Regions from separate parts of the Homo sapiens genome. Here region 2 is linked to region 1. Evidence: fine-mapped QTL for protein levels in blood plasma. A gene starts in region 1. The other region holds a variant in brackets. All regions are shown on one strand. Distances are from middle to middle.

The links. PIP is the chance, under the fine-mapping model, that this variant and not a neighbour inherited with it causes the effect. The UK Biobank Pharma Proteomics Project read protein levels with antibody pairs (Olink). The fine-mapping took linkage between variants from a reference panel, not from the people measured, so its PIPs are less certain.
Region 2: its variant is fine-mapped to the plasma level of the ENPP6 protein (UK Biobank, PIP above 0.99).

What each region holds. Positions count from the first base shown.
Region 1 is chr4:184,211,722-184,223,793 of GRCh38, reverse strand. It overlaps ENPP6 (ectonucleotide pyrophosphatase/phosphodiesterase 6), which reads left to right and starts at 5,921. Exons shown (of 8, transcript NM_153343.4): 1 at 5,921-6,215. The coding sequence starts at 5,975.
Region 2 is chr4:184,196,222-184,208,293 of GRCh38, reverse strand. The region is part of intron 1 of ENPP6 (ectonucleotide pyrophosphatase/phosphodiesterase 6); the gene reads left to right. Among named protein-coding and RNA genes, the nearest start is that of ENPP6, 16 kb to the left of the region's middle. The variant G/A (reference allele first, on the strand shown) is at 4,200.

The sequences.
Region 1 (12,072 bases):
GTCATATGTAATTAAATATGATTTTTCTCTCATTAATCTGTCTCATGCTAATTTAATTATTAGCCCAGCCAAAGAATCAAAAAGTGTGAATGAAAGCCATTTTTCACTCCCCTACAACACCTTTGTCGAATATCAATTGAGTGTAAATGTGTTGGCTTATTTCTGGCCTCTCTATTCTGTTCCTTGGGTCTATGTGTCTGTTTTTATACCAGTACCATGCTGTTTTGATAGCTATAGCTTTGTAGTATGTTACAAAGTCAGATAGTATGATGCCTCCAGCTTCATTCTTTTTATTCAAGATTTCTTTAGTTATTCACAATTCTTTCTGGGTCCATACACATTTTAGGATTTTTTTTTTCTATTTCTGGGAAAAAATATCATTTGAGTTTTGATAGAGATTGCATTGACTCTGTAGATCGCTTTGGGTAATATGAACATCTTAACAATATAAATTATTCCAATCCATGAACATGGAATATCTTTCCATTTATTTGTGTATTATTCAATTTCTCTCATCAGTATATTGTCATTTCGGCATACAGATCTTCTACCTCTGTGGTTAGATTTATTTTCAAGTTTTTGTTTGTTTGTTTGTTTGTTTGTTTGTTTTTTGAGACAGAGATTTGCTTTTGTCACCCAGGCTAGAATGCAGTGGCACGATGCAACCTCCACCTCCCAGGTTCAAGTGATTCTCCTGCCTCAGCCTCCTGAGTAGCTGGAATTACAGGTGCTTGCCACCACACCTGGCTAATTTTTGTATTTTTAGTAGAGACGGGTTTTGCCATGTTGGCCAGGCTGGTCTCAAACTCCTGACCTCAAGTGATCTGCCCGCCTTGGCCTCCCAAAGTGCTGAGGTTACAGGTGTGAGCCACCACACCCAGCCTATTTTCAAGTATTTTGTTCCCTTTGATGCTATTGTAAATGAGACTGTTTTCTTATTTTTATTTTTGGACTGTTTATTGTTACTTTATAGAAACACAACTGATTTTTGGATGATTTTATATCTTGCAACTTATATGCTCTGTGTGTGTGTGTGTGTGTGTGTGTGTGTGTGTGTGTGATCTTTAGGAGTTTGTACATGTAAGATCATGTCATTGTCAAACAGAGATGGTTTTATTTTTTTATTTATAATTCTCTTGCCTAATTGTCTGGCTAGGACTTCCAGTATGTTGAATAGAAGTGTTTAGATCAAGCATCCATATCTTATTACTGCTCTTAGAGGAAAAGCTTTCAGCTTTCCACCACTGGGCGTGAAGTCAGCTGTGGGCTTTTCAAATATAGCCTTTATTATGTTGAGGTATTTTCCTCTTTCGCTACTGACCTTTTAGTCGAAAATCTTTGTATTTTTTTGTTGTTGTTTAGTAGTTACTCTGAGGATTACAATATGCATCCTTATTACAGTCTAGTTAGAATAAATATTCAATCACTTTACATTTTGCTCTTGACATCTGACTTTTCCCATTTCATAAATTTCAAGGAACTTCACAACAGCTTAATTCCATTCAAACATTCTACCCCTTTCATTTAGGCTGTTGTCTTTATATCCTTTAATTCTTCGTAAGTCATCACTCGCAGCATAGTGTTATTCTTTTTACTTTAAGCAGTTATTTTTAAGGACATTTATGAAAGAAAAACATAGTCTTTTATATGTACTCACATATTGATCATTTATGAATTTTTTTCCCTTCCTGTGTATATTAATTTTCATCTTGTGTTATTTCCTCTCAAAGGACATTCTTTAGTATTTTTTTGTGGTACAAGCCTGTTGGTAACTAATTCTCTCATCTTTTGTTTATCTAAAAATGTCCTTATGTCGTCTTAAATTTTAAATAATATTTTTCCAGATACAAGGAGGGTTGACATGGACCAACAAAAGGCCAGCAGGGCTGCAAAAGCTGGGATGAATTAATTAATAGGACCAACAAGGGTGGATGTTGGCCGACATGGGCTGACTTGGGACCTCACTCTCAAATTGCATTGATTCTACAGCTAGAAAGTAGAAGCTAGAGCTTTGTCACTTTTCAGAGGTGAAAACTGAAGCCCAGAAAGGCAATTTCTTCAGAATCACACAATTGCATCATACCAGGATCTTGACTCTGGAATCACGTTTTTTTTGTGTTTTTTGTTTGTTTATTTTGTTTTGTTTTGTTTTGTTTTTCTGAGACTCTTTCCCTTCCATCTCACCTGTCTCTCCATAAAGGGGAGGCACCAGGGTGCTGACTAATCTGGACAGCACATTTCCTGAGAGCTCATGCATGTCCCTAGAGAGACTTGCAGCAGCTTTAGGACAAAGGTTCTTTCAACTTCTGGAGTAAATTTTTCATATTTTGCATTATCTAAGTGAAACCCCTGTGGACAATGACTTTACAGTATTGCCAACCCTTGAAAACAAGTTGCAATAAGCACTTATAAGCATTAGGTACTGATAACCACTCCCAAGTGAAGACATCCAGATCATAGACACATAGGTTTTGGATCACAAGACTTTGGGCACTTAATGTTAACCACCTGTATGACATATGGCTTTTAACTATTGCTTTTTAGCTTTCATTTCCAATCTTTTCTAGGTTAGACGGTTCAAGACCTGGAGACTGGCTTTGAGCAACCCTAGGATTACCTTGGCTTGAATTCCATCCAATACGTCTCTTTCTTCATATATTGGTATGTATATTAGAGATTCATATTGGCAATCATTTATTGATCCAAAGCTTTAGAGACATTGTCTAAACATGGTCATAACACAATATGATCATAAACATTATCATAAAACAATGATGACCCCACCCCAGATACATCACAACAATCTTTGTGGAGCCTTGGGAGCCTCTGGGGACCTGTGAACACGCTAATCTGAAGCAAGTTACTTCTGAGTTGACACCCACAACAGCTCAATGAGGCACTCAGGGAGCCATATTTTGAGTGTACCCTTGTTAGTAGTGGAGAAAAGTGGAAGTCCCTCTTATATTCATCTTTAACATTTGGAGTGCTTAACCTCTCCCAAAGTGAGCTCAGAAGCCATCCCAAAGTGAGCTCAGAGGCCATCCCAAAGTAAATCACTTGGACTTGCACTGTGACTCCAGCTTCGCAGTCCAGACAATCCCTGAGCCTCTCAGGAACTCACAGAGCACAGCTATCTGGGCCTCCTACCTCCATGGGCCCTCACCAGGGGAAGAAGTTCTCCTTCTAGCACATGTGATGTTCAGTGTCTAGGAGGCCCATCAACCCATCAGGCTGCATCTGCCTTTTCCCCTCCCCTCCCCTCCCTTCTCCTTCCCTTCCCTTCCCTCTCCTCCCTTTCCCTTCCCTTCTCTTCTCTTCTTCCCTTCCCTCCCTTTCCCTTCTTCCCATCCCTCCCTTTCCCTTCTTCCCATCCCTCCCTTTCCCTTCTTCCCATCTCTTCTCTTCCCTTCTTCCCTTTTCTTCCCTTCTTCCCTTTTTCCTTTCCCTTCCCTTCCCTCCCCTCCCTTCCATTCCCCTCACCTTCCCTTTCCTTCTCTTCTTCCCTTCTTCCCTTCCTTTCCCTTCCCTTCCCTTCCCTCCCCTCCCCTCCCTTCCCCGCCCCTTTCCTTCCCTTCTCTTCTTCGCTTTTCTTCCCTTCTTCTCTTCCCTTCCCTTCTTCCCTTCTATTCTTTTTTTTCCTTCCCTTCCCCTTCCCCTTTCCCTTTCCTTTCCCTTCTTTCCCTCCCTTCCCTTCCCCTCCCCTTCCCTTCCCTTCCCTTCCCTTCTTCGCTTTTCTTCCCTTCTTCTCTTCCTTTCCCTTCTTCCCTTCTATTCTTTTTTCCTCCTTCCCTTCCCCTTCCCCTTACCCTTTCCCTTCCCTTCCTTTCCCTCCCTTCCCTTCCCCTCCCCTTCCCTTCCCTTCCCTTCTTCGCTTTTCTTCCCTTTTTCTCTTCCTTTCCCTTCTTCCCTTCTATTCTTTTTTTCCTCCTTCCCTTCCCCTTTCCCTTTCCCTTCCCTTCCTTTCCCTCCCTTCCCTTTCCTCCCCTTCCTTCCCCTCCCCTTTCCTTCCCTTCCTCCCTTTTCTTCCTTTCTTCTCTTCCCTTCTGTTCTCTTTCCTTCTTCCCTTTTCTTCCCTTCCCTTTCTTTCTCTTTCTCCCTTCCTTCGTTTACTTTTCTTTCTTTCCTTTTTCTTTCTTTCTTCCTTCCTTTCCTCTTTCTTCTCTCTTTTCTTTTTCTCTGTTTATAGCAACAATACCACACAGCTCAAAGAAAAAAGAATAACATTGTTTTCAAAGTAACAACCTTTTAGGATAAACTCCCCTTTTCCTTATTTTTTAATAAGAAAAAAATTTAAATTTAATTATAAAAAGCATTACCTCTTATTGGAAAAAAGAATTCTGATCCTTGGCCAAGTCCCCTGAGAGGGGAGTGGTAATTTGGCCAATGTGTTTCTCTTTTGCAGCATAATTTAAAAAGTGACATGGTGATCCTGTGTTTGGGCTTGACTCAAATACAACAGAAAAAGAGAAGGAGAAAAGACACAAGCAGAGGGCAGAGGTGGAAGAGGGATTTTGGGGTTGACTGAGAGTGGCTGGTGTGGCTGGTGTCTATCTTCCTTCCCTGGAAAGTTTGCCCAGAGCCTGCAAGTTTCCTCAGGAGACAAGCAATGTTATAATGCGAATAACATCTAACATTTGTTCAACACTTGCTATGGACCATGCATGTTTTATGTCTTTTTTTTTTTGAGGCAGGGCCTCACTCTGTTGCCCAGCCTGGAGTGCAGTGATACAATCACAGCTTACTGCAGATATGACCACCTGTGCTCACACAATCCTCCCACCTCAGCCTCCTGTGTAGCTGGGACCAGGCACGTGCCGCCAGGCCCAGCTAATTTTTTAATTTTTTATAGAGATGGGGTCTTGCTGTGTTGCCCAGGCTGGTCTCAAGCTCCTGGCCTCAAGCAATCCTTCCACCTTGGCCTCCCAAAGTGGGCCACTGCACTCAGCCATGTTTTATAAGCCTTCACATGAATTGTGTTGTTTAATTTTATGTAGCATGACGGAGCCACTCTAGGGAACCCCTGGACTCTGGGTACTTTGTGCTAACTCTGTCTGCTCCCCAGCTCACATCTGCCTCCCTGTCACTAACCTCCTCCTATTTTCCACTCCGCCTAGTCTTCTCGGTCCCAAAGCCTGCATGGTAATTTCTAGCTCTGCTTTTCCATCTCAAGCTCTCAATCTCCAGCTCTCTATTTCATTTCCATCCTCCTGGGGCAATGCTGCTTCAGACCATTCTGCCAGTAATGATTTCCCATTGTCCAACTCTGGAAGCTTCTCATTGGCTCTAGGGCTCTTCTACGAACCACCTCCTCCTATGGGCACCAGCAGCTAAATCACATTTGAAAAATAAAATAATAACAAATAATAACACTGCATATAAAAACATAAGTGGCCAAGACATAGACAAATAACTTTTTTAAGTGCTGTGTCTACAGAGACACAGCTGGGAAGTTTACAAATGGGCCCACCGAAACGTATTGTTTCCTGTTTATGCACTGAGTCCAGAGGTTTGCGTTACTAAATTCTAAGTGAAAAAGAGTTTAAATGAGGCCATGATGTGGGATAACAGCAAATTAAAATCTTGCCCTTTTCCTTGGTTCCTCCCTTTGGTTAGCTCAACTGCAAAGTTAGTGTTGACTTTGTCATCTTCTAAAATTCCACCTCTGTGGGTGCTTGTATTTCTGGAACGTTCACCAAAAATAATAAGTTTGAACTCTCTCCCCTGGTGTTAATTCTGGGTTGTTTGGAACCCAGTTTATCTGAAGGAGTCGGTCTCTGGACTTTCTAGTAAAGGGTGAGCATAGATGTGTGGAAAAGGGGGTGCTGTTCCTTTAAATTCTGCAAGTGAACTTGACTCAGGAAGGCCAGCGGCTCAAGGTCCAGCCCCTGGAAGAGAGAATAGCTACAGATTCTCCATCCTCAGTCTTTGCAAGGCGACAGCTGTGCCAGCCGGGCTCTGGCAGGCTCCTGGCAGCATGGCAGTGAAGCTTGGGACCCTCCTGCTGGCCCTTGCCCTGGGCCTGGCCCAGCCAGCCTCTGCCCGCCGGAAGCTGCTGGTGTTTCTGCTGGATGGTTTTCGCTCAGACTACATCAGTGATGAGGCGCTGGAGTCATTGCCTGGTTTCAAAGAGATTGTGAGCAGGGGAGTAAAAGTGGATTACTTGACTCCAGACTTCCCTAGTCTCTCGTATCCCAATTATTATACCCTAATGACTGGTGAGTACCATGTCCTCTTCTGGGCAGGGAGGGGAGGGCTGGCATCCAGCAGGGAACAGTGAGCTCCTGGCATTGGAGTCTTATTTAAATGCTCTGGATTCTCTAGTCCTTTGGGACATCAAAGGTAGATAAAAAAAATCTGTGTTCTTGGCTGAGAAGACTTTTGTTTTCGTGGCGGTATTGTTTCCCAAAAGTTATCCCAAGGACCTGTTTTGGATTCTCAGTGCGGAGGACAGAGAACTATAGCAGTACATGATATTTGACGATATTAAAAGTGGTCGTTTATTTTAGAAAGAGAAATTCTAATGAGGCTCATATTTTCTAAGTTCAAGTCTGCAAAAGCAACAGGTGTCCGTGCATGTGTCCCAAACTCCTTCTGTCCCTTTTCTCTGTGGTCATGTCATCCTGGCACCCTGTGGGCTTGTTTCTCAGTGTGTTGGACTGTGAAAGTACCTGTGGGGTCCTCAGAGGGGAGTGGTGCTCCCGGATTACTTGGGGAAGGGGGGATGTTTAGGTCATATCCTTCCCTGTGACTTAGCAATGCCACCTTCCCCTTCTTTTGCCTTTTTGGCCAGGTAAAATGATACGGAGAAGAAAAAGCTTGTGTCGTTCAGGTTCCCCATTTGTGATTTGCAGCATCTACAAAAGACCAACCAGCAAAAACTCCACAAAACAAACAAAAACCTCGGCTAACCCAGACTGCCTGGGCTTGGGATAGCTGATTTTCCTAAGGACGGCCTTCATCTGAAATTGCCAGGACTCCAAACGCGACTGCATGAACCTGAGCCTCTATCCGTGCGATAATAGAATGTGCAGCCCTCTCTCTGCTCACAGAGTTGGATTCCCAGTTTCTGGTTTGTTTTTCAGCTATAACCTTTGTAAAGGCAGCGAGAGGCTCTCAGAAAGAATTTAGCAAACTATCCAGGGAGGCTGCTAAGAATGCACTGTTATTGCTGGTTATGCGGGACTCAGCTATGCACTCTGAGCACAGAGAGAGCTCTGCTAATTATGTTAACAGAAAGAAAATGAGATCTCTGATATCTCATGGACCTCCACAGAACACTAAAGCCAAAAGAGTCTAAAACAGACATTTATATCTCTGACTTTGTGCATAGATACTATATACACATGTACGGAAAAATGCCATAAACTGATGCCCCAAACTGAAGGGGAGAGATACTTCGGAGAAATAAAAATGAGGGCATGAGAGAGAGAAAAAAATCAGACTGCACACAAGCAAGGAAGTTATGTATTTGTTTTTTATTTCCCCCAGCAGACAAAAAAACAGTCTCTAAGATAAACAGAATTAACAAAATTCTCTGGCCCTCCCCTGGCATGTGTCTCCCCTTGCAGGGAAGCAGTTTGCAGGCTGCCGGCTCTCACATAGACGTGATTGTGTGGACAGCCGACTCCAGCTCTGTGCAGCGGCTTCACACACACAGCCCACCCCCACTCCAGCTGTCTTTCAGAGCCTTGCCAGGGGACCCAATTCATAAACTGCCACGCCACGTGCAGCTTCTGCAATCTTAGTGGAAAATGAACAAAATCCATCTTAGAAAGGACTCAAGTAAGTAAAAGGACCATTACAGACTCCACAGAGACACTAAGCCAATGACATGGCCTTTTGTTTGTCAGATCCACACTCCTGATATTGGCACAAGGAATAATTTGCACACAGCCTCCGTCATGCTGAGACACACCTTCTTTTCCGGCTGTGGGTGTTTTCCCTTGTGCTGTCCTGAGAGAAGGGCCCCTTCCTTTATGGGCAGCACAGGTCCCGTGAGTGTCTGACAAAGATCTCACCCTTGCTTTCAAACTGAGGCTGGCCCGAGGAAGCCACAGGTCTCCATATGTGTTAAGTCTCTGTATTTTCAGATGGCCAAATGTATTCACTGATGTGGAAGTCTGCTTGGTCTATATGTTTCATAGAAGCTACCCTGCACAAGGGAGGGATCTAGCAAGGCTCATGTTTCTGTACAAATGTCCTTGGGTATGATTTGTCTTGTACCTACTGGGCAGACTTGCAGACTTGAAGCAGAATTCGCAGGCTGGGAAATGCCAGGCCATGAACCTGGTATCACCTCCACTGTCTTGGAACTGACTCAGAGTTAAATTTAGACTATTTTCCCCAATACCCATACTTATTTTTCCACCTGATGCTGAAAACCTCCTCTTTTACTCATATAAAGAAGGATATAGCCATTGGGAATTGTAGCTAAACATATGGTTTGAGCATTTGAGCATTTTATGAACCAACAAAATTGCTATGCTAGATCTTTTTGGAAGCAAAAGATATGCTGTTTTAGGGTTCCTCAGCATTCACAAGAGAGGCTAAGCTCTCACTTCATTACCCGAATTATTGCTCAGAATACAGAAAGCCCTTGGTGTTCTTCCCTTTGCATAACGAGGAGTGATGAGTTGTTGGAAAGAATGCTGGCCCTTGAGCTGGGAGAACTTGCTTGGAGACTTCAGGCAAAATAAAATGAGATGAACTGCCGGGGCTGCATCAGGCCGGGATTTCAGGTGCTGCTGGATGCAGACATAGAACTAGGCAATGCATGGGGAATTTTATTTTATTTTATTTCACTTTAAATTCTGGGACACATGTGCAGAACGTGCAGTTTTGTTACAGAGGCATACATGTGCCATGGTGGTTTGCTGCACCTGTCAACTCGTCATCTAGATTTTAAGCCCTGCATGCGTTAGGTATTTGTCCTAATGCTCTCCCTCCCTGTGCCCCCGATCCTCCAACAGGGCCCAGTGTGTGATGTCCCCCTCCCTGTGTCCATGTGTTCTCATTGTTCAACTCCCACTTATGAGTGAGAACATGTGGTGTTTGATTTTCTGTCCCTGTGTTAGTTTGCTGAAAATGATGGCTTCTAGCTTCATCCATGTCTCTGCAAAGGACATGAACACATTCTTTTTTATGGCTGCATAGTATTCCATGGTGTATATGTGCCACATTTTCTTTATCCAGTCTATCATTGATGGGCATTTGGGTTGGTTCAAAGTCTTTGCTATTTGCACAGGTAATTTTAAAGTTAGGGCTGGACCCTCCTAGGAGGCCTTCGTGTAGAAAGTATGCAAATAGCGGAAACTCCCTTGAGACAGAGAATTTCACAGTGGATGGGGATGGGGAATCAACAGGCCTATTTGTGAGCAACCTTGAAACCATCTAGCCCAGTTGCTGCCATGAAGCCACCATGGCTGATTATTTATTTGCCTCAAAACATGTTTATATCAGGACAAAAGCAACCAAAATGCCAATCATGATCATGAAGATGAATCAAACAATTGAATGCCAGGAACATTGAATCTTTTTTCTTTTTTTTTTTATTATTATACTTTAAGTTTTAGGGTACATGTGCACATTGTGCAGGTTAGTTACATATGTATACATGTGCCATGCTGGTGCGCTGCACCCACTAACTCGTCATCTAGCATTAGGTATATCTCCCAATGCTATCCCTCCCGCCTCCCCCCACCCCACAACAGTCCCCAGAGTGTGATGTTCCCCTTCCTGTGTCCATGTGTTCTCATTGTTCAATTCCCACCTATGAGTGAGAATATGCGGTGTTTGGTTTTTTGTTCTTGCGATAGTTTACTGAGAATGATGATTTCCAATTTCATCCATGTCCCTACAAAGGACATGAACTCATCATTTTTTATGGCTGCATAGTATTCCATGGTGTATATGTGCCACATTTTCTTAATCCAGTCTATCATTGTTGGACATTTGGGTTGGTTCCAAGTCTTTGCTATTGTGAATAATGCCGCAATAAACATACGTGTGCATGTGTTTTTATAGCAGCATGATTTATAGTCCTTTGGATATATACCCAGTAATGGGATGGCTGGGTCAAATGGTATTTCCAGTTCTAGATCCCTGAGGAATTGCCACACTGACTTCCACAATGGTTGAACTAGTTTACAGTCCCACCAACAGTGTAAAAGTGTTCCTATTTCTCCACATCCTCTCCAGCACCTGTTGTTTCCTGAGTTTTTAATGATTGCCATTCTAACTGGTGTGAGATGGTATCTCATTGTGGTTTTGATTTGCATTTCTCTGATGGCCAGTGATGATGAGCATTTTTTCATGTGTTTTTTGGCCGCATAAATGTCTTCTTTTGAGAAGTGTCTGTTCATGTCCTTCGCCCACTTTTTGATGGGGTTGTTTGTTTTTTTCTTGTAAATTTGTTTGAGTTCATCGTAGATTCTGGATATTAGCCCTTTGTCAGATGAGTAGGTTGCGAAAATTTTCTCCCATTTTGTAGGTTGCCTGTTCACTCTGATGGTAGTTTCTTTTGCTGTGCAGAAGCTCTTCAGTTTAATTAGATCCCATTTGTCAATTTTGGCTTTGGTTGCCATTGCTTTTGGTGTTTTAGACATGAAGTCCTTGCCCATGCCTATGTCCTGAATGGCAATGCCTAGGTTTTCTTCTAGGGTTTTTATGGTTTTAGGTCTAACGTTTAAGTCTTTAATCCATCTTGAATTGATTTTTGTATAAGGTGTAAGGAAGGGATCCAGTTTCAGCTTTCTCCATATGGCTAGCCAGTTTTCCCAGCACCATTTATTAAATAGGGAATCCTTTCCCCATTGCTTGTTTTTCTCAGGTTTGTCAAAGATCAGATAGTTGTAGATATGCGGCGTTATTTCTGAGGGCTCTGTTTTGTTCCATTGATCGATATCTCTGTTTTGGTACCAGTACCATGCTGTTTTGGTTACTGTAGCCTTGTAGTATAGTTTGAAGTCAGGTAGTGTGATGCCTCCAGCTTTGTTCTTTTGGCTTAGGATTGACTTGGCGATACGGGCTCTTTTTTGATTCCATATGAACTTTAAAGTAGTTTTTTCCAATTCTGTGAAGAAAGGCATTGGTAGCTTGATGGGGATGGCATTGAATCTGTAAATTACCTTGGGCAGTATGGCCATTTTCATGATATTGATTCTTCTACCCATGAGCATGGAATGTTCTTCCATTTGTTTGTATCCTCTTTTATTTCGTTGACCAGTGGTTTGTAGTTCTCCTTGAAGAGGTCCTTCACATCCCTTGTAAGTGGGATTCCTAGGTATTTTATTCTCTTTGAAGCAATTGTGAATGGGAGTTCACTCATGATTTGGCTCTCTGTTTGTCTGTTGTTGGTGTATAAGAATGCTTGTGATTTTTGTACATTGATTTTGTATCCTGAGACTTTGCTGAAGTTGCTTATCAGCTTAAGGAGATTTTGGGCTGAGACAATGGGGTTTTCTAGATATACAATCATGTCATCTGCAAACAGGGACAATTTGACTTCCTCTTTTCCTAATTGAATACCCTTTATTTCCTTCTCCTGCCTAATTGCCCTGGCCAGAACTTCCAACACTGGGTTGAATAGGAGTGGTGAGAGAGGGCATCCCTGTCTTGTGCCAGTTTTCAAAGGGAATGCTTCCAGTTTTTGCCCATTCAGTATGATATTGGCTGTGGGTTTGTCATTGATAGCTCTTATTATTTTGAAATAAGTCCCATCAATACCTAATTTATTGAGAGTTTTTAGCATGAAGGGTTGTTGAATTTTGTCAAAGGCTTTTTCTGCATCTATTGAGATAATCATGTGGTTTTTGTCTTTGGCTCTGTTTATATGCTGGATTACATTTATTGATTTGCGTATATTGAACCAGCCTTGCATCCCAGGGATGAAGCCCACTTGATCATGGTGGATAAGCTTTTTGATGTGCTGCTGGATTCGTTTTGCCAGTATTTTATTGAGGATTTTTGCATCAATGTTCATGAAGGATATTGGTCTAAAATTCTCTTTTTTTGTTGTGTCTCTGCCTGGCTTTGGTATCAGAATGATGCTGGCCTCATAAAATGAGTTAGGGA
Region 2 (12,072 bases), 16 kb after region 1:
TCTGCATCGCTCACGCTGGGAGCTGTAGACCAGAGCTGTTCCTATTTGGCCATCTTGGCTCCTCCCACTGAATCTTAAAACAGGCCTTTCACCAGGGAGATTACATTCAAGCAGGGGAGGCAGAACACTCGCGAATGGGTGCCCACTAATATTCTAAAGTGTGTAGCAAGGTGTTGTGAGCCCAAATGTGTCCTCATCCTCCTGTCCCCCAGTTCAAGTTGGGTTTCCAGTACCTCAGAATGTAACCACATTTGGAGATAAGGTCTTTAAAGGTGACCAAGTTAAAACAAGGCCATTAGAGCGGGCTATTCCAATATGACAGTATAGGAAGGCGAAGAGACACAGGCATGCGCACGTGCAGAGAAAAGGCCATCTGAGGACACAGCAAGGCGGCCCTCGCAGGCGGTGGAGAGGGGCCCAGGAGACACCAATGCTGCTAACACCTTGCTCATGAACTGTGAACAAATAAGTTGCTGTTGTTGGAGCCACTCCATCTGTGGTACTTTATAATGGCAGCCCAAGCGAATGAATACACAGAGAATAGGGAGTAGGGCCCCAGCGTGCTGCAGAGGACCAGGGAGAGGAGGCGTTCCTTCCAGTTGGAGTAGTGTGAAAAAGCATTTTAAAGAGGAGAGATCTGAGCTGGAAGAAACAGCCACCGGCGTGGTGTGTGTCTCTACATCTTACTTTAGGCATAAGCTCTCTCTCTGAAGAGCGGTGTGTGGATCAACTAGTGAAAACACAACCACAGTTTAAATGCCCTTGGAATGCTTTCTGTTTTAGTGTATCTTACCGTGGATCTTTTCGTAAAGTTATTCTCCCTTTGGGGTAAATTCACATTTGACTGAAGTGGAGTTTAACATAAAGTCAAGGAAAGAAAGCAGTGATTTGTTCAATCCAGGTCATGGGTAAGAGGGAAATGCTGCATCTGTTTTGAGGCAGCGTAACTTAGCATCATTTTGCTAAGGCTAATGGTAACATTTGTTTGCAATTTTCAAACACTTCCGGTTAAGCAGTTGAGGAAAGTGGCCCAGAAACATTCTGAGTAGCGGGGAAGCCAGTCTAGAATTTTATCTTTACTGCCAGTAAACTACCAAGAGATGAACAGATGCTGAAATAAGTTTGTTCCACAGTATATTATTATTATTTCAACATTTAGACACTAGTAAATAAAGTGCAGGGAAATTCAATGTTTTGTTTCAGGCACCAAAGAACGTCGTGGCAGAGCTGAGATGGGGGAGCAGGCATCAGAGACCCCGTTCTCACACAGCAACTGGCCAGCGCCTAGGCGAGTAGGCATCAGAGGTCCCGTTCTCACACAGTAACTGGCCAGGGCCTAAGCCTGCATCTTAGAGTGGCCAGAAGGTTGTGCGAGTGACCTGAGACCCAAGGATAGAGATCTCCCCAAGACAGTCCGGGAAGCAGCGAGAGACCGAATCATCGTGCTCCTCTGTGGAAATCAAGGCAACAACAGGGATGTTAACTACTCAGCATTACTATTTGTGCCACGGCATTTTGTCTCGCACTCCTAGAAATCACCTGTGACACAAATTCTTACTAGATATCATGTTCTGGGGTAAAACAGCAGAGTAAGGTATACTTCCTACCACCCCACCTTTTAAGAAAACATCTGATTTAAATTAAAACTGGACCAAAGGCAATCAATGCAGAAAGTACTTGAACAATCGTGTTTCGAGAGAGCCCACATCCTCAGCCTTCTGCAGAATTCAAGCTTCCTGGCCGGGCGCGGTGGCTCACGCCTGTAATCCCAGCACTTTGGGAGGCCGAGACGGGCGGATCACGAGGTCAGGAGATCGAGACCATCCTGGCTAACACGGTGAAACCCCGTCTCTACTAAAAATACAAAAATTAGCCGGGCCTGGTGGCGCCCGCCTGTAGTCCCAGCTACTCGGGAGGCTGAGGCAGGAGAATGGCGGGAACCCGGGAGGCGGAGCTTGCAGTGAGCCGAGATCGCGCCACTGCACTCCAGCCTGGGCGACAGAGCGAGACTCCGTCTCAAAAAAAAAAAAAAAAAAAAAAAATTCAAGCTTCCTTTGAGGGGCTGTTCACAGACTCTGCATACGCACAGCTCCAGGTAGGGTGGAGACAGCCTCCCTGGTCCCCTCCGCCCTCCTTCCCCCAGGATTAGCATTTACATGGGGACATTGCCCCAGCTTGTGAGCCTCCTTCAATGTAGGTACCTCCTGAAATAAATGATCTCTGTTCGGCATGCCCTCTTCCTGTCTTCCTACTCTCTCTTGCACCAAATCCAGCGAAGCTTCTGTTTGGAACAGTGTCCTCCCGGGCGTCCTGGTCATTCCCAGCCTTAGTTCCCTGGCTGGGAGCTGCATCTGCCTGACGGCTCACAGGTCCCAGGACCCTGTCCTCTCTCAGTTTCCTTTTACTTTACTCACTCCTCCTTCATCCTTTCCCTTGGTTCCTCCTGATCTCCCTGACCTTCCTCTGTCTCACAGTGAAATCAGCTGACCTTTCAAGGTCGATCCTCAGCCTCTCCTCCCCCAACCTCCATTGCTGACCCCTGGCTGAAGCCACCACCCTGACTGCCTGGAGCCTCCTCTACTCCAGCTCCCTCTCGCTGCCTGCCCCACAACTAGAGCAGCCCTGTTTTGAAAGCAGTGCCTGCCCTACAACCAGAGCAGCCCTGGGAAAGCAGTCCTGATGACACCACTCCTCTGTTCAAACCCTCCAGCGGGTTCTGTTGTACCCCAAGTGGAATCTAACGCTCTTGCAGACCTGGCCCTATAGGTCACCCAGCCCCTTCGGGGCCTCGCTCCCACCACCCTTCTCTTCGCTTGCTTGTGTCCCGCTGGGCGTGCTTGAGCACGCTGCTCCTCCTGGCTGCTTCCCTTCTGCTTGTTCCCCAGAAAGGCCCAAGCTGGGCATCGCTGCATTCTTCAGATCTGCCCCACAAGGTCACCGTGGCGGATGCGTCTTCCCCAGCCACCCCACCAGCGCTCTCTCTCCCTCTTACTTTCTTTATTTTCCATCACGGCACCAGATTATTTATTTCTGTCTTCTCCAAATAAAACTTATTATAGTGGGCTGGGCACAGAGGCTGACACCTATAATCCCAGCACTTTGGGAGGCCGAGGCAGGTGGATCATTTGAGGTCAGGAGTTCGAGACCAGCCTGTCTAACACGGTGAAACCCTGTCTCTACTAAAAATACAAAAAAATTTAGCTGGTTGTAGTGGTGGGTGCCATAATCCCAGCTACTTGGGAGGCTGAGGCAGGAGAATCGCTTGAACCCAGGAGGAGGAGGTTGCAGTGAGCCAAGATGGTGCCACTGCACTCCAGCCTGGGCAACATGAGCGAAACTTCATCTCAAAAAAAAAATTACTATAGCGAAAAAGCATTATAATGATGATTAAGACATTCAGAGTTTCAGGGAAATGAATGATCACTTTGATGTTCGACACTTCTAAACTAATAAGGAGGAGAAAAAACTACAATCATGCTTTGCTCATATGAAAGCAATTTGCATTTAGTGAACTGATTACCCTTTACGTCTAGTAATCTTACATATCTCAAAATGTGTCTTTCAGTTTTGTTTTAAATTTTGATTATAAGGTTGGAGTCAGAAAGAGGCCTGGAAGGAGAGTCACCTCCAAGGAGAGCTGTGTCAAAGTAGGAGATGAAAGAGACTGGGGATGGTGGGAGAAAGTTTAACCAGGAACCAGTGGTCAGCACAGCCCAAGGGAGAGCCTCCTTGTAGTGAAGATCGCTGAAGTCGAGAAAGTGGAGCCAACAGCCACGCATGGAACCAGGCACATGATTCAGAACCAGCGTGGAACACTGTGAGGACGGTTCAGGCCTAGGTGCGAGTGGTCTGGCTGTCGGACCTAGGGACGCATGTGGCAGCTTAAAGGGACTTGCACGGCCACTCTTGTGTTTTCAGCCTCTGTCCCAGGCTGCTTAGGTGGCCAGGCTATGTATGCCAGCATCGCAAGGAGCTACTTAGATGTTTAAAAATATCAGGCCACGTTATGGGCTAATTTGTACACCCCCAAAACCCATGTGTTTATGCCCTGCCCCCTAATATCTCCGAATGTGACTGTATTTGAAGATAGGATCTTTAAAGAAGTAATTAAGGTAAAATGAGGTCACTAGGGTGGGCACTCATCCAGTATCGCTGGTATCTTTATAAGGAGAGGAGATTAGGACCCAGACGGGCACAGA[G/A]GGAAGACCACATATAGACACAGGGGGAAGGCGGCTGCCTGCAGACCAAGGAGAGAGGCCTCAGAAGAAATCAACCCTGATGACATCTTGATCTCAAACTCCCAGCCTCCAGAACTGTAAGAAACTAGATTTCTTTTGTTTAAGCCACCCAGCCTGTGTTACTTTGTCCTGACAGCCATTGGAAAGCAATATAAACGGGATCGTGACACTAGGCTGCTAATGGAAAAATGCAGGGTTTTTTTACACAGCCCACTTCCATGACCAAACCTACTCACTGAGAGTTTCTGGTGACTTCTGCCCTGAAATTGAGGCAGTCATGGTGTGTTAGCTTCCTAGAGCTGCTATAGCAAATTTGGATTCCCAAAGTCTGAAATCCAGGTGCGGGCAGGGCCGTGTTCTCTCTGAAGTCTCAAGGGGAGAACATGTTCTGCGCTTTCCCCTGCCTTCTGGTGTCACCAGCAATCCTCGGTATTCCTTGGCCGGTAGATACATCACTCCAACCTCTGCTTCCATTGTCACGGGGCATTCTCTGTGTTCCTCTGTGCTTCTCCTTCTTGTAAGGACACCAGCCATATTGAATTAGGGCCCACCTTAATGACATCATCTTAACTTGACTATGTCTGCAAAGGGCTTATTTCTAATAAGGTCACATTCACAGGTCCTGAGGCTGGGAACTTCAGTATATCTTCTTGGGGGCCACAAGTCAACCCATTACGCATGGTCCAGTGGAGAAAGTTACGGATTTAGCTGTCAAAGATCAAACTTAATCTATTCTGTCACTTTTTGACTTTCAGAATTTGAACAGCTTCTTTTGAGTGTTAATATTTTGTTTTGTTTTGTTTTAGAGACAGAGTCTCGTCCTATCATCCAGGCTGGAGTGCAGTGGCACGATCTCAGCTCACTGCAACCTCCGCTTCCCTGGTTCAAGCGATTCTCCTGCCTCAGCCTCCTGAGTAGCTGGGATTACAGGCACCTGCCCCCACACTTGGCTATTTTTTTTTTTTTGTATTTTTAGTAGAGATGGGGTTTCACCATGTTGGCCAAGCTGGTCTCAAACTCCTGACCTCAGGTGATCCACCTGCTTTGGCCTCCCAAAGTGCTGGGATTACAGGCATGAGCCATTGTGTCCAGTGAGTGTTAATATTTTATCAGTAGAATGTAGAAAGTAAATGTTACCCAATAGGCTTGCTGTGAGAACAGAATGAGCAAATATATGTGTAAACTCACCATTAGTAAGAGTGTACATATTACCCCCTTTATCAGTAAGGTGAGGCTGAGTTATGTTGTTGCAACAAGCAATTCCACACCACGTCTGTCTTAGAATAGCTCAGGTTTATTCCTCACTCATGTGCGTGGCCTTGAGGAATGACCTCCCCTCCGATTTCCTCTTCATTCTGGGACCCAGGCTGAAAAAAGCAACTTCTAAATGAGACATGCTGCTCTCATGGCAGAGGTAAAAGATAAAATAGAACATTGTGATCATGGATAGTTTGGGCAAAGGAGGAGAAGTGAGCGTGGTCAGGTCAGAAGGAGGGGTGCTGAGCCCATTTGCCATCTGGGTGTGGGTCGGGGGTTGCAGAGAATAGAGTGTGTCAAAAACGTGCAATTGATGAAAGTCTATGAAAGCCATACCAAAGGATAGTCCAACAGGCTCCTCCTCCCCTCCTGTTCCACTCCAGACTTCACCGCATCTATCCTTTATGATGGGCTGTAAGTGAGGGGGAGAGTTGAATTTGAAGGGCACCCATGAGGCAGAACTTGCTGATTGGCTGATGAGTGAATACGAAAGAAGAGCCTGAACAGATGCCACAGCTGCAAGATCTTCTGAAGTCTGAGTAAAGGGGCTCTCATTAGCACAGATGGGAAAGTTTGAAGGGCTATTAATCTCAGTGAGATTTATTTGGAAAAGTAATTTTCATCAAATTATATTTCAATTTGAGTAAGATATTCACTTGGCATTAGCCCTTTAGGGGATCAGAGACCATGTCTTAAAGGAGAGTTCAAGAAGCATGCAGAATACCACTGAGGCAAAGGAGAGAAATTGATCCTGTGGGTCCTAGTGGACCCCAGTAAATGGACTTCCTATCTCACTGCTTGCTACCCAGCTGGTAGAGAATATTTCTCACGGATGCACAGTTAAAATCTGTCTTCCCACCTGAATTAACTTTTGTCAACATTTTGTCATATACTTCCCAGAGACACCTAACAACATTTTTTCCACTTAAACTATACTCTCTGTAATGAGCCTCGATTAAGCTGCCTAAAGAAGCAGGCATGGTAGGCGAGGTGTCCAGCAATTGAAGCTAGAAGTGGGTAAGAGCACTACTAACCAGCCATGCCCTGAGGAAAAAAAAAAATGTGTTCTAAGAATTTACTAAAATAATGTCTCCCAGCACATCATTATTTAAGCTCCTATCAACAGACCTCTCTGCACTGAAGTGTCACTTTTCAAAAAGTATGTTTCTTTTGGCTTCCATGGTGACCAGAGGGTGTTCTGATTATATGGCATTCAGCTGCTGGAAACTTGCTCCATGAAGAAGGGAGTGGTTAGAGTAGGGGGCAAAGCTGTAAAATGTGGTGAAAGCTTTTGATTGTAATAACAGCAAAGGCGTTTCCAGAAGGCTTGTCCACGTGGAGCCACTGCGGTCTACACACCATGGCGATCTCACAACACCCCCCCGCCCCGCCTCCCTCACCCCAATGTTGATTGATAGGATCATGTGCCTCCTGCCAAGGCTTTGGGGATGGCTTGACCCCTGCAGCTCCAGTTCCTGCTCAGCATGAGTGCTGTGCCAAAAGTGGGTTAAAGGGCATTTCAGATTAATTTGGAGGGAGCCTGACTCAGCAGGTTAACATTCATCTCAGAGACACCTTCAGCAACACCTGCTCGAGTTTCAGAGCCCCTCTCCATGAATAGGTCCATTGTGTCCACACGATAACCAGGCAGAGACCTGGGGCAGAGCTGGGGGTCCTGGGGGCGCGCGTGCTGTGTTTGACTCTTGTTGGATACTTTGCTTGGTCTGAACCGACTCCCATCATCAGCCCTTTCGACAGCAAGGAGAGAAGATCCAGAAGGCAGATCATGGGAGGATGCGTGGGCCACCTTATTTAGACAAAGGGCTGTCGGGGCTGAGAGCAATGGAACTTTGGTCCAGGATACTGAAGATCTTTACTTCTTGATGAAGGAACTACCCAGGGCACCTTCAAGAGCACGTGCATGGGAGAATGTGTGTACATGTCTGCAGCAGAACAACCCAGGCTGAGTGCTAGGGACCAGGAGTGGGCTCCAGGTGTGCCAGGAGGCCAGGTCCCCCGGGAGTCACCTTTGGTGGTGAGCAGTCTCATCCACTCAACCTGGGTTGCCCAGCCGATTATCTGCACAGGGCAGGCTGCGAAGCAGTGTGGGCCACAGGGCAGGGAAAGGGGGCAGAGGAGCCGGCTTCTCCTGACTGCCACAGTCCGCAGGGACTTGGATACATTACATCATCTTCCTGGGCCTGCACTCTTGCTGTTTAGCGTGAGAAGACCAGACAAATGGAGCCCTGAGGTTGGTTGTGCATTTAGTGAGTGCGCAATTGATGTTAATTAGGTTCTGGCCAACTAGGTGTGCTAACCCCAACCGAAGCCAAAAAGGTTCACAGTGACTCGATAGCCAATTACATATGCTTGAATCCACCTTTTGTTGAGAGGCCTCCACGCACCACAGATCATGTAATTAACCAACACACAAGCAGTAATAACAGTGTGGTAAGGAAACGCGGCGATGGCTCGGGAGAGCAGCACACCAACAGATGTGCCGAGTGGGTCCGGACGTCCTTGGGACGCTGGTCAATGGGGTCCTCACCGCTTCTGGCATCAGATGCCAAAATTGGGAGAAGGCTTCAGAGCTCTCATGGGCAGAGGCTCTAAGGGTGTCTTGAACGAGGCCAGTTCTTGGCTGCTTTTATTGTCCTCCCAGATGAGTTTGCTCTCATCATCTAAGCCACCTTTCACTTTCTATTGGTCTGTTTCAGGGTTGGGTGGCACTGGGCAGCAGCAGGTGTCATCACTTCAGTCCATTGCATATGTGTATATCGCTTTGAGGAGGGAGACAGCTTCACAGTGGGCTTACTGATATTTGGCATGAGTGACTCCATTTTGAGACATTAGGAGCACAAATTATGATATCAGGGATGTGTGCTGGGAGTGTTCTAGGTGCTGGAAATACCATAGAGAGGTTCTTAGGGCCCACTGAGTGGGAGCAGACGGAAAGTGGGGGGACTGGGGTGGGCTCCCAGCGAGACGCTGTGTCCCTTGCCCTGTTTTATGATCACAGTAGCTCCAATTCGACCTGTTTTGTACATATGAAGAAAGTGCTCTATAGTTAATCCCACTGGACACTGATGGCCCCTAACAAGGACTGGCCTGAGGGAAGGGTGGACGGCAGCAGACAGAAGTCCTGTGTCTGTGGATGTCACGGTGGAGACACCCACAGAATTTGCCTAAGTGGCACCCAAGCCTTGGGCTCTCCTTCCAGGTTCTGAACACAAATCAATCACAGTAGCCCATCAGCTCTGCCGCATGTCTAGCTTTCCCTGAAAGATCCTCTGTGTGTCTAAGGATTTGGCTTTCACAGGTGGACTTGAGAAAACATTATTCTTTAAAGGTTGAAAGCAGCCACCGTACAGAAACGTAAATGTTTGGGAGAAAACCTCAAATATTGTGTTCTTCAGCCACTCACTAGCAGACCATGGGCCTAGCCTGGAACCTGCCCCCCAGCCCACTTCAACCCCTGCCTGGCAGCCCAGACTCCTGACAACAGCCCCCCAGCCCGTGAGATATCTCATCACAGAGCCCACCAAAGAGGGAAGATGGGTAACTTTGAGGCTGGGGCACGTCAAGGCATCAGGGAGCCTGAGAGAAGACGCCTCGGCTCCAGCAGCCCCTGGAAAATGCTGCCATGTCACTTAGCCTGAGACGTTCCAAGCAGCGTGATCTGTGTGTTGAGTAGCCAGTTATGTTAAAACCATTCATGCGTGTTCCCTTGGTCTCTGGTCACATATGCTTCGTGGCATGGAGGCGGCCTCTCTCCTTCTCTGTTCAGCCAGACTCTTCCCAGAGCCCCTGCAAGGAGACACAGCCATTCAGGTCATCAGGGCCCCAGCATAGGGTACTTGCCAGTTGGAGGGAAAACATACCTTTGAAGATGCCTAAGAAACCAGGAATCATGGTACCTATCTGGATGGCAACTGGACAGATGAGAGACAAGATGGGACACAGACATCTTGTTGCCTATGTTTTTGAACAATGTGGATTACTTACCTATTTGCAATATTAAGTGAAAAATTTGTATCAGATCTAATGAGACTTGCTCAACTCTAGTAGAACAAGCAGACATTTTGTTCAATATTGATTAAATCCCCATTTGTGATTTAGGGAAATACATTCACATTCAAAGAGTTTTGAAATACATGTTCCTCAATCTAGTGGACCTAAAGCAATGTTTTGTGCTTTGGTTTGGTTTTCTCAGTCTGCACTGCAGACTTGCAAACGGTGACCAGCCAGGGCTCAGGACACCCAAGCTTGAGGTTTTTGTCACTATCCTTCTCTCAGTGCCACCACCTCTGGGAGCTGCCACTGCCCCTCTGAGAAGCAGGACTAAAGGCCATCTATGAGACCTCCCCTAGTGTACAGCCTCGGAAGGGCTCCCATTTCGCAGGTGGGTCCCTGCAGGCAAGACCTGTCCTTGCAGTAATCCCCACTACTGTTGGTCTACACTCCCTCAGGGGCAGTGGAGTGTGGACCGTCTCCACGTTGGGGACCAGTGCTTACTCAGAGAAGACATTGATTTGTGTTTGTTGGACTGCACTGGCTCAGAGCCAGGGCCTGGGCTTTTCCCAGCTCTGTGGCAGAAGCCTTGGGTTCCCCATCTTTCTACAAGGCTCTGGAGTTTTGCTGCCAAGCCCCGTCTGTTGGCTGAGGTTGCACTCTTTTCTAACAAACTGCCCAGTGCATCATATGCCTGTTTTGATCTCACTGGCTTCTGGATTCTTCTGGCCAAGCTCCATGGGCCTCTAAGTCCTCTCCCCTCATCTTCATACTGGATGCCTCTCTCGCCCTTAAGGCCGACAGCAACACCACTGCTGTGTTCATCCTGTTGTCCTGGACTTCCCAGCACCCAGAGCTATCCCTGGTGTTCACTGGTCTCTGTGGGAGGATCTAATTCCAGGTTCCAGTTACTCCCAGTCTGGCCCATTCCCCTGCAGCTTAGCTGGCTGGCCTTGTCCCAAACCATGACATCCCTCCTTGCACATTTCTATGAGTGACTTTCATAGTCTATTTTAGCATGCATTTTTCTGTGTAAGATATAACACTAAAACTATATGAATGAGCTTGGGAATATGTAACAAAATCCACTACATCCCAATCCAAATTTCCCCCAAAGGCATTCAGAATTACAAAATGCCAAAAGCAGAGGATGACTTAGAGATGCTAGTGCATTTGTGTTATTGTGCAGGACACAGAGGCCAAAGATGCAGATCCGGAACCAGATAAAGGGAGAAAAACCACACCAAGTGCAGGTTTCCAAGCCGGGGCCAGCATCTGGCATCCCTTAGATGATCAGGGACGGAAGCCCAGGCATTCTCTTCCAGCCCCTCTCGCCATGTACCCAAGTTGCCCTTTTTGCCTGAGCTCTCGACCTTATTCTGAGTACTCTACTCTTTCAATGCTGAACTTCCCTGGGTTGCTTTTGCTTCTTTCTTCAGCCTCATTAACATCTCCCGGGAGGTACAATCTGAGATGGAGATGAGATTCAAAGCAGTGAGAGAGAGAGAGTGTGTGGTGCATGTGTAGATTTCATCAACAATTTGGCCCAGGGGGAGGTGGAGCCACGTAGAAGATTGTGGCTGGTTTCTGGACTCAGCTTGGCCATCCTCTCTATTTTCTAGTGCCGTGAATAATAACTGAAGACTGGCTGCTTACACCCTTTACATAATCCCATCAAGCTCTGATGGAACAGATAAGAAAAGCACATTCCAAGGAATTCACTCTCAGCCTGTGTCAACATGTATTATAACGTCCAGCTAAAAGCTAAAAGAATCTAATAAAAACAAAGAGACTTTACCCAATCCCCAACCACCTGTTTGCCTGTTCTTTTGAACTGACTGGCTAGCTGTGGGGGGGTCTTGAAAGTTGACCTCATGAGATTCCCTCAGGGGACATCAGACTGATCCCTAACCTTCAAACCAGAGGACCATCAGGGTTCTTGCAGCCAGTTGTGAGACGCCTGTTGGGATGGAATTTAAACCATGATCTCTTCACCTCTCCCTTTTCACCTCCTGGTTTTTGTTGGAGGCCTCTCTGGGAACTCTCAGTCCTTCTCTTTGTTGATACCATCTATTCTTTCTGTAAGAGCTTTACTCCCATCCTCTACCACACCCACAGCCCAAGCCCTGGCTTTCCTCCACCTGTCTTTCTCTTTCAAGCCAAAATAAGATGCCCTCCTTCCAAAAGGCTTTGACATGTAGATTGTAACATTTCAGAGATGGATGGTGCCTTGAGATCTTGTTATTTTCATCCACTTGCTAACTCCTTTTCCACTTACTGTCTGAACCACAGATTTTGGTAATTACACCAACATATAGTATTGACATACATAGTCATACATTGCATTCATACATGAATAATATCCATTCAAGAATATACTGAATTTCTACTTTGTAAGAGTTCTTAAGATGCCAGGACATGGCCTCTGTCCTGAACAAGCTTGAATAAAGTTGAAGCAATTAAATATGTGTCAAAATGAATATAATCGTCGTACAGGATAGAACAGGCACAGGGGAAGCACAGCTCATTTCTGAGAGTGTATGTGAAGAGGGAAGGTTCGCTGAGG